2 separate regions of the Homo sapiens genome follow, and region 2 is linked to region 1. The links come from fine-mapping of genetic effects on gene expression. A gene starts in region 1. The other region holds a variant in brackets. All regions are shown on one strand. Distances are from middle to middle.

Region 1 (5,375 bases):
CCACTGCCAATTTCCTAAGTTTCTGTGGGTGTGAGATCATTCTGCCTTATTATTTCATCTTTCAGCATAATGCACTGAATCCTTATTACAATCAGCACACTCTTTCCTATGGAGTAAATCACATGTTATTGTGTCTACATCAGCCAAGGGACTTGAGTACAAACCTCTGTTTTTAGTAGTTTCATGCTGTTTGTTTTTGGTATTTGAGAGACTAGATGTAAATGTTTCCAAGGAAAGTTTACTGCCAGATACAGAGGTGAAAGGACAGAAGTCATGTCCTTATCCATGGCTGTCCCTCCAAAGGTCAGTGGTTGGCACTTTCATAGGCCTTTTGAGATAGCAGTAATGAAATGAATTTTAATGAGGTTCAGAAAACGGAAATAAGGTACAGTGCCCCAAAGCACTCCCCCAAGTGTAGGGGTCCAGCGCGGCCATCTCTAGACCCCCAGAGTGGCCCAAAGGTCAGCCTGACTCCCCTTACATGAGAAAGATAATCCTATGAGAATAAATATAAATAGATAAGTGGGTGAATAAATGTAGGTGCATGAAATTGAAACAAGAGGACTTCATTATGTGATGGCATAAAACATAATATTCTGGAATGGACAAAAATAAAACTTTGGACTGGGTGAGGTGGCTCATGCCTGTAATCTTAGTGCTTTGGAACACCTAGGTGGGAGGTTCGCTTGGGACCAGGAGTTTGAGGTTACACTGAGCTATGATCTTGCCACTGCACTCCAGCCTGGACAACAGAGCAAGACCCTGTCACAAGGATGCTAGAATTTGTCCATAAATACATTTTTATTTATGTATTCCCCATCTCTCTTTTTATCCTATTTTATGTAGACAGCAACGTGATTTTTTTTCGTCCTTTACAGAGGCTGCCTACTAGTTTGCAGTTAATACCATTTTACTGTATTCTATAAAGGTATTGCCAAGGTCAGTTGGCTCAAGGTTTGTGTTTCTTCCTTGAGAAAAATACAAAAAGAAGAAAAAAAAAGATCTTCGGTTTGAATACGAGAGTGGAAAAGAAAATTGAAATACAATCGTGCAGGAATGCTGCCATTTAGACATTTAAAACAAGCAAAAGAACAACAACCAAAACAAAACTCACCCATAACAAGGGGTTACCACTGTTTTTCTGTAGCATCTCAGCAGATGACCTCCTGGTGTTGCAGTCGGCAACTGGTCGTGAGTCTGTTAAAATTATGGGCAGGCACGGTGGCTCACGCCTATAATCCTAGCACTTTAGGATGCCAAGGCTGGTGGATTACCTGAGGTCAGGACTTCCAGACCAGCCTGGCCAACATGGTGAAACCCCCTCTCTACTAAAAATACAAAAATTAGCCGGGCATGGTGGCGCATGCCTGTAATCCCAGCTACTCGGGAGGCTGAGGTGGGAGAATCACTTGAACCTGGGAGGCGGAGGTTGCAGTGAGCCGAGATCGCGCCATTGCACTCCAGCCTGGGCAAAAGAGCAAAACTTCGTCTCAAAAGAAAAGAAAAGAAAAGAAAGCAATTACGCAATTTGTTTTAAATTATGACGTCTTTGAAAAGTATGCAATCTAAATTCGTTGGATTAGCGACGAGAATACTGAAGTTGAAGTGCATTTATAGAAGTCTATAAAATGGCAAAAAACTGAAAGGGAAAGAAATGAGCTATTTGAGTATTCTCTGTGTTGCTAGTAAACAAGTTCCAACTCTGCAAATCAGTTTTCAAAAGAATACTGATTGTTTCCTAAGTACCTGCAAACTCTGAAGCATTTTAGGCAAGGGAATGAGTGGGAAAAAAGTATCTTCATGTTTGTGCATTACAACAATAAAGACTATTATGTAACAATGTGGAGTCTTCAAAGCGACCCTGCCAAGAGGGAGAAAGTGGTCCTTATGGACGGATTGTTTTCTGCTAGAAGGCCCTCAATTAGAATTGTACTTACGCATACATAATATAGGATATTATTTTTATATTCATAGAAAACTGCTTTCTCGGGTAACTCCAGCGCTGTACATGGGATGGGATACCGGCCCTCCGTTTACAAATACTCAGGCGCAATGCTGCCCGGGCACTCAAAGGACAGAAGATAGTGTCTGTGCCCTGCGGGAGCAGGCCACGAATCCCGAAAACGCCGTGGCGCAGTGCTCCTTCCCGCGAACCTGAGTGGGCCGTGGTTCTCGGTTGCTCTGGACATAGGAAAATGTCAGTTCATGTGTGTCCCTTTCTCCACTAGATGTCACTGTAAATCAATTGCTTAAGGAGGGAACCCGGGCGTCTGGCGCATCTTCACACAGTACCGGGGTTTGAAGCCCGGTCAGTGTCTGCACTTGTGTCCTTCCCCACTGGGGAGCCCCAAGGCGGGGCAGGCGCGGGGACTCGCTGTGCACGGAGCGGCGCGCTGTCCGAATGGCAACCGAAGAGCCGCGACCCGGTCAACGAAGCGCGGGGGTGACCGGAGCAGGACGGGCGGGCAGGCGGCGCAGTGCGTGGGCGGGCCCGCGCTGCGCTCCCCTCCGCCCAGCTAGCGAGACGGTCACGTGCCGCCCAGGCGCTGCCCCTTGCGGGCGGCTGCAGAACAACAGGGCGGGGCCGGGGAGGGGAGGAACACGGAGGCCGACGCCGGGCGCCGCGGTGCTACGCCCGAGGCTGGGGTCGCCCCGGGCCGGGGGGAGCAGAGCGCGTGCGCCGCGCGGCTGTGAGCGCGAGCGGGGCCGGGGAGCGCGCGCGGAACGCTAGGGGGCGTGGCTGCGGCGCGCGCGCTAACCGGAGGGGGAGGGGCGGAGAGCCACCGCGGAGCGCGCGCGGGGTTGGTTGCCGCGAGCGTGGGGGAGCGTGGACCGCGGCGCTGCTCAGCGGTGGGGCTGCCTTCCCCCGGCCCTCCTCCCTGGTCCCTGGCGAGGGCACTGGCGGCGGCGGGGCCGGGGTCCGCAAGGCCGGAGAAGGCCGCCGGGCCCGGGCATGGTGGTCTGGGGCAACGCGGAAGGTGAGCGACCCCCGGGCCGGCGGCGGGGTGGGGGAGGGGCGGGATCGGACACGCGTCGCCCGGAGGCGCCGCAGACCCGCCCGGCAGCGGCCAGAGCGCGGTCGGCCTGAGGTGGCGCGGGGGAGGGGTGCGTCGCCCCGGCCCCGGCCCGCGGCCGTCCTGTCGCGGCCTGGGCTGTCCACGGCGCCTTCCCCTGACGCTCGCAGCCGCCGGGTTATGTAATGTGTGACCTCCCCTCCCCTTCCCTTCCGTCATGGCGCGGCCGGCCCCGCGCCGCCGCCAGCCCCATGGGCCGCCCCGCGCCGACCCCTGGCGCAGCGGCCCTTCCCTCCGCGCCCGGCCGCATCCCGCCGGCCCGGTCAGACCGCGCCGCAAACTCCTTCCTCCTGCGCCGGCGCCTCGGCCGGCCATTCAGTTCCGCGCCATTCATTCACGCGCGCGTTCGGGCGTTCGTTCCACAAGCGTTTGTAGAATGTCGACCCGGTCGAGCCGCCGCTCCCACCCGCACTCCAGCCACAGCGTTTTTCCGCACCCCGCCTTCGACGTCCCCGGTGCATCCCAGAACCGGTCGGAATGTCCGAAGGCGGTTGTTGCTCCCTTGTTTTTCCTTGCTGCTTGTCCGTTCGCTAAATACGCTGGGCGCCGTTCCCCAACTGTCCTTCCGAGAGCCCCTTGCCCACTTCTGTACTGTTACAGTGACGCCGCTCTGGGCGCACCGAGCCGCGCTGTGTTTCGCTGCTCTTCCTACCTATTCTCAGTTTGTAAAGAAATAATCTCACATAACACTCCTTAATGTACTCCTCCGTAAGATAAATTGCAGATAATATACGTCTGCTAATTCTCTTTATCTCCACGTCTTCTCACGCCATGTACTAAGTAGAAATGGTTTCATTTAGGTGAAAATAATGCAGACTAGCACATAGCACAACAAGGGCTTGTAACTATTAAGGACTTTATGTAACAGTCTGTAATTCTGTGTATCTGTCTGGTCTTTCCGGACTTGGCACTTTAGTCTCCGAGAATAAGCCATTTCCTGTTTAGGTAGGGTAGGACCAACCATAACCTTGGTTCTTTCTATGGAGTTCTGTATGTAGCAAATCAGCCTGTGGGAACCATCTATCTGTCCACCAACCTTTCACACATATTCTTGGGTTTGCCCGTGCAGGGACCAGTGCTGCGTATTGTTCCCTGCCTTCCTGTACTGGACACTTAAGAGCTCACCTAAAGTTCCTCTTCCAGGAATCATTCTCCAGTATACAAGGCTCTCTTCCATTCAATTCTTAGGCTATTTGCGCCTTTTCCTGTGTTGCGTTTATCTTTTTAGCCCTGTCTTCTCTTACTGTGTAGGACCTTTTGAGGGTAGAGTCTGTACCAAACTCCTATCTTTTGTTGTAGAACCTTAACCGCTATTTTACGGTAAACCGTACATATTTAATTTTTTTTGTAAAGATGGGAATTGCTCTTTTAAAATTAATTTCTATGAGGTCTCAAGTAGAACATAATTTTTAAAAAATAATGTGCTTGAATATATAAGATCACTACATTTCCAACTTCCCACTCGCAACTTCAAAACTCTGATTCTACATAAGAGCATTAAGGAAACGTTGTCCTCACCAGCAACAAACTGGTCATTATTCATAAGAAGTTGCAGTGACTACATATAATATATATTTGAAAGCACTTTCTTTGATAGCTGCTGTAGTGGAAAGACAGGAAGTTCACAGTTACATGGAGGTTAGATTTCTGGCCCTACAAATTGTTAGCTGGTGACTGGACAAGTTAAGTTACTAGTATCTCTGATTTTTTCTCGTTTGTAGAATGAAGATACCATTTCCCACCTTGGGTAGCTGAGGATTAAATCAGTTCTTAAACGTGAGACATCTAGTGACACCATGGTACTCAGGAGGTGCTCAGTAAATACATATTCCCTTTGGTATACCTGTTTATTGCAGTTCACAATCTAGAATGAGCCAGGATGTGCTAGAGACAAAGCGTGAGAGGAAAGGTAATCAGAAGAGGTGACAGGTACCTCTCGTCTCCAAATAAATGAACAAGTCCTACACTAAAGAGCATTGTGGGTCTTTCTGCTTTTCAAGAATGTATGGGTGTGTATATGTGGCGTATTACTAATCATAGAGTATATTAAACAGAACATTTAAAAATGAAAAGTTTTTTTTTACTATAATAGCACCAACTGAAGCGTTAACATGGACATTAAAAAATAATCTTATTTTTTTCCAAAGGCAAGTCAGGAGACGAGACGGGAAAAGGGATATTAAAAAGGCTCTTTAGAGGCAATTAGGTTGCAGGCTCTTCTGTTAGCATCTACTTATAAACAGTACATGAATCCTAGTCTAAGTTCCATTATCTCTTGGTTGGAGTGTTTCCATAGTGCCT
Region 2 (5,375 bases), 160 kb after region 1:
GCCCAATTGGCTTCTTTTCATAGTATAGGGCTGATAATTAGTATGCAAAGGACGGATTATTGGAATTTAAGGTAATATATGTTTAGGTTCTGCCACAAACTCATATTTCATAGTCACATTTAAGTACTAATTGCTAATGTGCAACTAAAAATAATTATTTGTAACTAGGATATTTTTGTAGAGAGACTGAATTCACCTGATTTGCAGTGATGAACATACGTTAAATAATGTCTTAAAGGAACTTTTTGGCAGTTCAAAACAGTGGTCTGAATATAATTAAAACCAACTAAGGCAGACTGGCTATAAGCCTTTTTTATTATTAATGTATAAATCAATTTAAAATGAATTTGTCATCGAGTAATTCAGAGGGTCTTATTTTAGAACTTTCACTGCATTTTAGTAGGTCTTTTATTAAAATATTTTCTGGAAATAGTCAAGAAACCTAGTGATTTGTATAGATATTCTTTTTATAAGAGATTATACAGTAATTAGATTATGCAGTAATTTTGATTTTCTGATCCACGAGGGTATTGGGGAGATCATTGTATGCATTGACTTACAGTCGGCACTTAATAGACCTAGGTGAATCTATATTCTTCTGTCAGCCAAGCACCCTCCTACTGTTAACTAGAGCTGGCACACTTAGGTAGGGAGCAGAATAGAGGGATAAGGTAAGAAATAGGAGTTAAGCAGAGGCTTGGGTGACAGCCACTGACAGCCAGGTGCTGCCCAGCTGCCATGCCTCAGGTAGGCCCATCCTGCTTGATTCTGTTCTGCAGATACCTTAGGAGCACATGCTGTCCAAAAGGGGCTATGCTAAGAGCACAGGGGTGTAGTGAATGTGTCAGGAGAGGCCCTGAGCATTGGTAGAGGTTTGGAATGGGCACATCCTCCCTCAAAGGAGCCCAGGACAGGTTCGGGTCTTCAGCCTCTTGGTTAAATACCTGAGAATAAATAATGAAAAGAAATAGCAGCTTTTTTTTTTTTTTTTTTTTTTTTTTTTTGAGATAAGAGTCTTGCTCTGTTGCCCCGGCTGGAGTGCAGTGGCACAATCTCGGCTCACTGCAACCTCCACCTCCCAGGATCAAGCAATTCTTCTGCCTCAGCCTCCCAAGTAGCTGGGATTACAGACGCCTGCCACCATGCCCGGCTAATTTTTGTATTTTTAGTAGAGGTGGGGTTTCGCCATGTTGGCCAGGCTGGTCTTGAACTCCTGACCTCAGGTGATCCGCCCACCTCAGCCTCCCAAAGTGCTAGTATTACAGGCGTGAGCCACTGCGCCCGGCCTAGAAATAGCAGCTTTTTAAAAGACAAATACTTTTTTTTTTGAGACAGGGTCTTGCTCTGTCACCCAGGCTGGAGTGCAGTGGTGTGATCTTGGCTCACTGCAACCTCCGCCTTCGGAGTTCAAGCAATTATTGTGCCTCAGCCCCCGAGGAGCTGGGATTACAGGTGTGTGCCAACACACCTGGCTAATTTTCATATTTTTTGTAGAGACAGGGTTTCGCCGTGTTGCCCAGGCTGTTCTCAAACTCCTGTCCTCAAGTGATCCACCTGCCTCAGCCTCCCAAAGTGCTGAGATTACAGGTGTGAGCCACTGCGTCCAGCCTAACAAATACTTTTTAAGGGCACATATCATTGGTAAGTTGTGAAAGCAGTCATGAAATGTCATATGTCATTAGGGAATTGTATTTGAGAGTTAAACTGTGTGTAGAAATTTCACATAAGAAAATATCAGGGTATCCTGCAAGTGTCAGCTCGATGTAAATGGATGTGATTTTGACACCGCAGTCATCAATATAGTCTGGGCCACGTTCACTGACGTCCAGAGGAGGAAGGGAGATGGCCCTCCTGGCTCTTTGGTTGGACCCCTTCTGGAGGCTGGATTCAGACCTCTGTCACATTTTAAGAAGACATTGGTGAATTAGAGTGTGTTTAGTTGATATCCTGGAAGAGTAGGAACTCTAGAAATCTTTTCATATGAGAACAGTTAAAAGGAACTGGAAGTGTTCAGTGTGGAGAAGGGAAAACTTAGGCAATATGTGATGTTTGAAGGGCCCACGTGGGAAAGAGATTAAAACTTTAATCTTTATCCAAGCTGGAATCCACAGACCAGAATTATGGATATATTGCAGTTCAGTGTGAGATGACCTTTCTAACAATTAGTGCAGGTATAGAGACTTTTTAAGCATTTATAAAGTGGTTATCAAAAGCAGACAGGGCTCTTGAGCTTCAGAGCTGCAGTATCCTCCTTTTCTCCCCAAGACGAATTGGGTTTATCTCATAAGCATTATTTTTATTTTTATTTATTTTTGAGACAGAGTCTCACTCTGTTGCCCAGGCAGTGGCGTGATCTCAGCTCACTGCAACCTCTGCCTCCTGGGTTCAAGCAATTCTCCTGCCTCAGCCTCCCAAGTAGCTGGGATTACAGGCGCCTACCACCACAGCTAGGTAATTTCTTGTATTTTTTTTTTTTTTTTAAGTAGAGACGGGGTTTCACCATGTTGGC[G/A]AGGCTAGTCTGGAACTCCTGACCTCAGGTGATCCAGCCGCCTCAGCCTCCCAAGGTGCTGGGATTACAGGCATCAGCCACTGCACCCAGCCTCATGAGCATTATTTTTAAAAGACTTGTAGTAACTTGGATCAAATGCTTCTGGTTTTAGTAGTTTAAGAGTACATGGATAGAGTTAAGTGGATATTTACATTCTGAGTCTCTCAAGTCTAAATTTTTATTTTGAAAGTTCTGAGAAAATAGATGTTTTAAGCTACAAAGACAGGTAATTGTCTTGAACCCAGGCCATGCTGTGGAGACGTTCACTGTCCGTAGACTAGTTTTGCATTGACAGTAGAAACAGGAAAGTAAATTGCTAAAAAACATTCATTTTTCTTTGACTTCAGCCAGGCACAGTGGCTCATGCCTATAACCCCAGCACTTTTGGAGGACAAGGTGGGAGGATTGCTTGAACCGAGGAGTTTGACACCAGCCTGGGCGATATAGTAAAAACCCCGTCTCTACCAAAAAAAAAAAAAAAAAATGCCAGGCGTGGTGTGGCATGCGCCAGTGGTCCCAATTCCTTGGGAGACTGACGTAGGAGGATCTCTTGAGCCCAGGAGGTTTGAGGCTGCAGTGAGCTATGATCATGCCACCACACTCCATCCTGGGCAACTTTAGCAAGACCCATTCTCAAAAAAAAAATAAATAAATAACACTTTTGGGCCGGGCGCGGTGGCTCACACCTATAATCCCAGCACTTTGGGAAGCCGAGGCAGGCGGATCACAAGGTCAAGAGATCGAGACCATCCTGGCCAACATGGTGAAAACCCATCTCTGCTAAAAATACAAAAAGTAGCTGGACATACTGGTGCCCGCCTGTAGTCCCAGCTACTCGGGAGGCTGAAGCAGGAGAATTGCTTGAACCCAGGAGGCGGAGGTTGCAGTGAGCCAAGATCGCGCCACTGCCCTCCAGCCTGGTGACAGAGCAAGACTCCGTCTCAAAAAAAAAAAACAAAAACAAACAAAAAAAAAACTTTTTTTTTTAATTGACTTCATTACAAAATACGATGGTGATTTGGACACTTAAAATGTCAAGTGGTTCTGAAAGAGATATCTCACATGTGTAATGTTTTGCCTCTCTCCAAATTAGGAATGGCTTTCTAAAGGACATGGGGAATACAGAGAAATCCCTAGTGAAAGAGACTTTTTTCAAGAAGTCAAGGAGAGTGAAAATGTGGTTTGCCATTTCTACAGAGACTCCACATTCAGGTAACTTTGTTTCCATCTGTGACTTTTTCTAAAAAAACACAGTGAATTGTTTGGCTGGAGATATACTGGCTTACTAGAGAAATGAAGAAAACTAAAAGAAAAAACTTCCTAAGTTGTTTCATTGTACTCTCTCATATGTTATTTAGTATTAAGTTAAGCAGGCAGGGGCCCAGTGACTCAAGCCTGCAATCTCAGCACTTTGGGAGGCCAAGTGGGGGGTGGATCACTTGAGGTCAGGAGTTCAAGACCAGCCTGGCCAACATGGCGAAACCCTGCCTCTACTAAAACTACAAAATTAGCCGGGTGTGGTGGCAGGTACCTGTAGTCTCAGCTACTGGGGAGGCTGAGGTGGGAGAATTGCTTGAACCCAGGAGACAGAGGTTGCAGTGAGCGGAGATCGCGACACTGCACTTCAGCTCGAGCGATAGAGTGAGACTCCATCTCAAAAAAGAAAGAAAAAAAAAGTTAATTGTTATTTTAAAGAGTAACTTAAAGAACAGTTACATGCAAAAGTATAAATGAATATTACTGAAAGTCAATATTCCCATATAAATGGCTTATATTTTTGAATTGTATTTTCACTAGCTAACTAAAAACATCTTAGAAATGTACACTTAAAATTCTTATCACCATGACAGTAATTATTTCCCTCTAGTATTGTGATGTAGCCATGATATTGGGAACGGGCAACAGCTGTTGAGAGTCAGTGTTCCTTCAGTTCCTCCTTGAAGGAACTAGCAACTGTGGTGGGGAGATGGTGGCTTGGCCAAACCTTTCACCAGAGCAGAGTTGGGACTGCCAGTCTTGGCTAGAAGGAGAAGTGATTTTTCTTAGACCACCCTAGGTCTCCAAATTTCTCTAAGGAAGCAGATCTCTTATAAAATGTTAATACCTCCTCAGAAGAGGTCACATCGTAAACCAAAGGACCCAAGCCTTTGTGGTTTTTTGTGCACAGATTTGATTAGTTGCCAACACTTAAAAATCGAGAGATAACTCCTTTTGAAAATATCCACACTTAGAATTTTTCTTTAAAAAATCAGAAAACTTGCTAATAGCATAGCTGGAACTATGATGGCAGTCATCTGCTGACTGGCACCTGCCTACCCAGGACAGACAAGCACTGTGCTCTAGAGTCTCTGGCACTCACTGTGGTTTCAGCCCTGCTCTCTTTCTCATTTCTGTGGCCTTCTTGCCCCTTTGTCTTGATCTCACAACCCAACAGCTTCATTGTTAGTTAACACCTTTCAAGAATTGATTGCCTGGTATTCATTGACTAAGAGAATAAAAATGAAACAAAATATTGAGATGGTGAAATCCCTTGTGAGGAACAGTGAGAGAAGGGATTAGGCAGGTAGAAAGGTATCAGAGAAACCTCTGCCCTTATGGTACACAACCATCTCGCATTGGCACACATTCCTCAAGTTGCCAACCTCTGACAAATATGATGAGGTGATATATAAATATACTAGTATGTAAAATATTATTTGTCCACTTGTTTTTTTTTTGTTGTTTTTTTTTGTTTTTGAGACAGAGTCTTACACTGTCACCCAGGCTAGAGTGCAATGGCAGGATCTTGGCTCACTCCAACCTCCACCTCCCGGGTTCAAGTGATTCT

Alleles and levels. Positions count from the first base shown, and alleles are read on the strand shown. Sizes are in standard deviations (SD) of each study's normalised expression.
With allele G in place of A in region 2, the expression in whole blood of the gene that starts at base 2,778 in region 1 is higher (small effect, 0.33 SD a copy in Lepik 2017).

Evidence for each region. PIP is the estimated chance that this variant, and not a neighbour inherited with it, causes the effect. A credible set is the group of variants that fine-mapping cannot tell apart.
Region 2: its variant is the best candidate, but not a certain one, in a credible set for the expression of REV1 in whole blood (Lepik 2017, PIP 0.52).

Annotation. Positions count from the first base shown.
Region 1 is chr2:99,487,420-99,492,794 of GRCh38, reverse strand. REV1 (REV1 DNA directed polymerase) reads left to right here and starts at 2,778. Exons shown (of 23, transcript NM_016316.4): 1 at 2,778-2,978. RefSeq lists an enhancer at 1,955-2,840 and silencers at 2,274-2,943, 3,054-3,153, 3,224-3,303.
Region 2 is chr2:99,325,920-99,331,294 of GRCh38, reverse strand. TXNDC9 (thioredoxin domain containing 9) reads left to right here. Exons shown (of 5, transcript NM_005783.4): 3 at 3,642-3,760. Among named protein-coding and RNA genes, the nearest start is that of TXNDC9, 7.7 kb to the left of the region's middle. The variant G/A (reference allele first, on the strand shown) is at 2,510.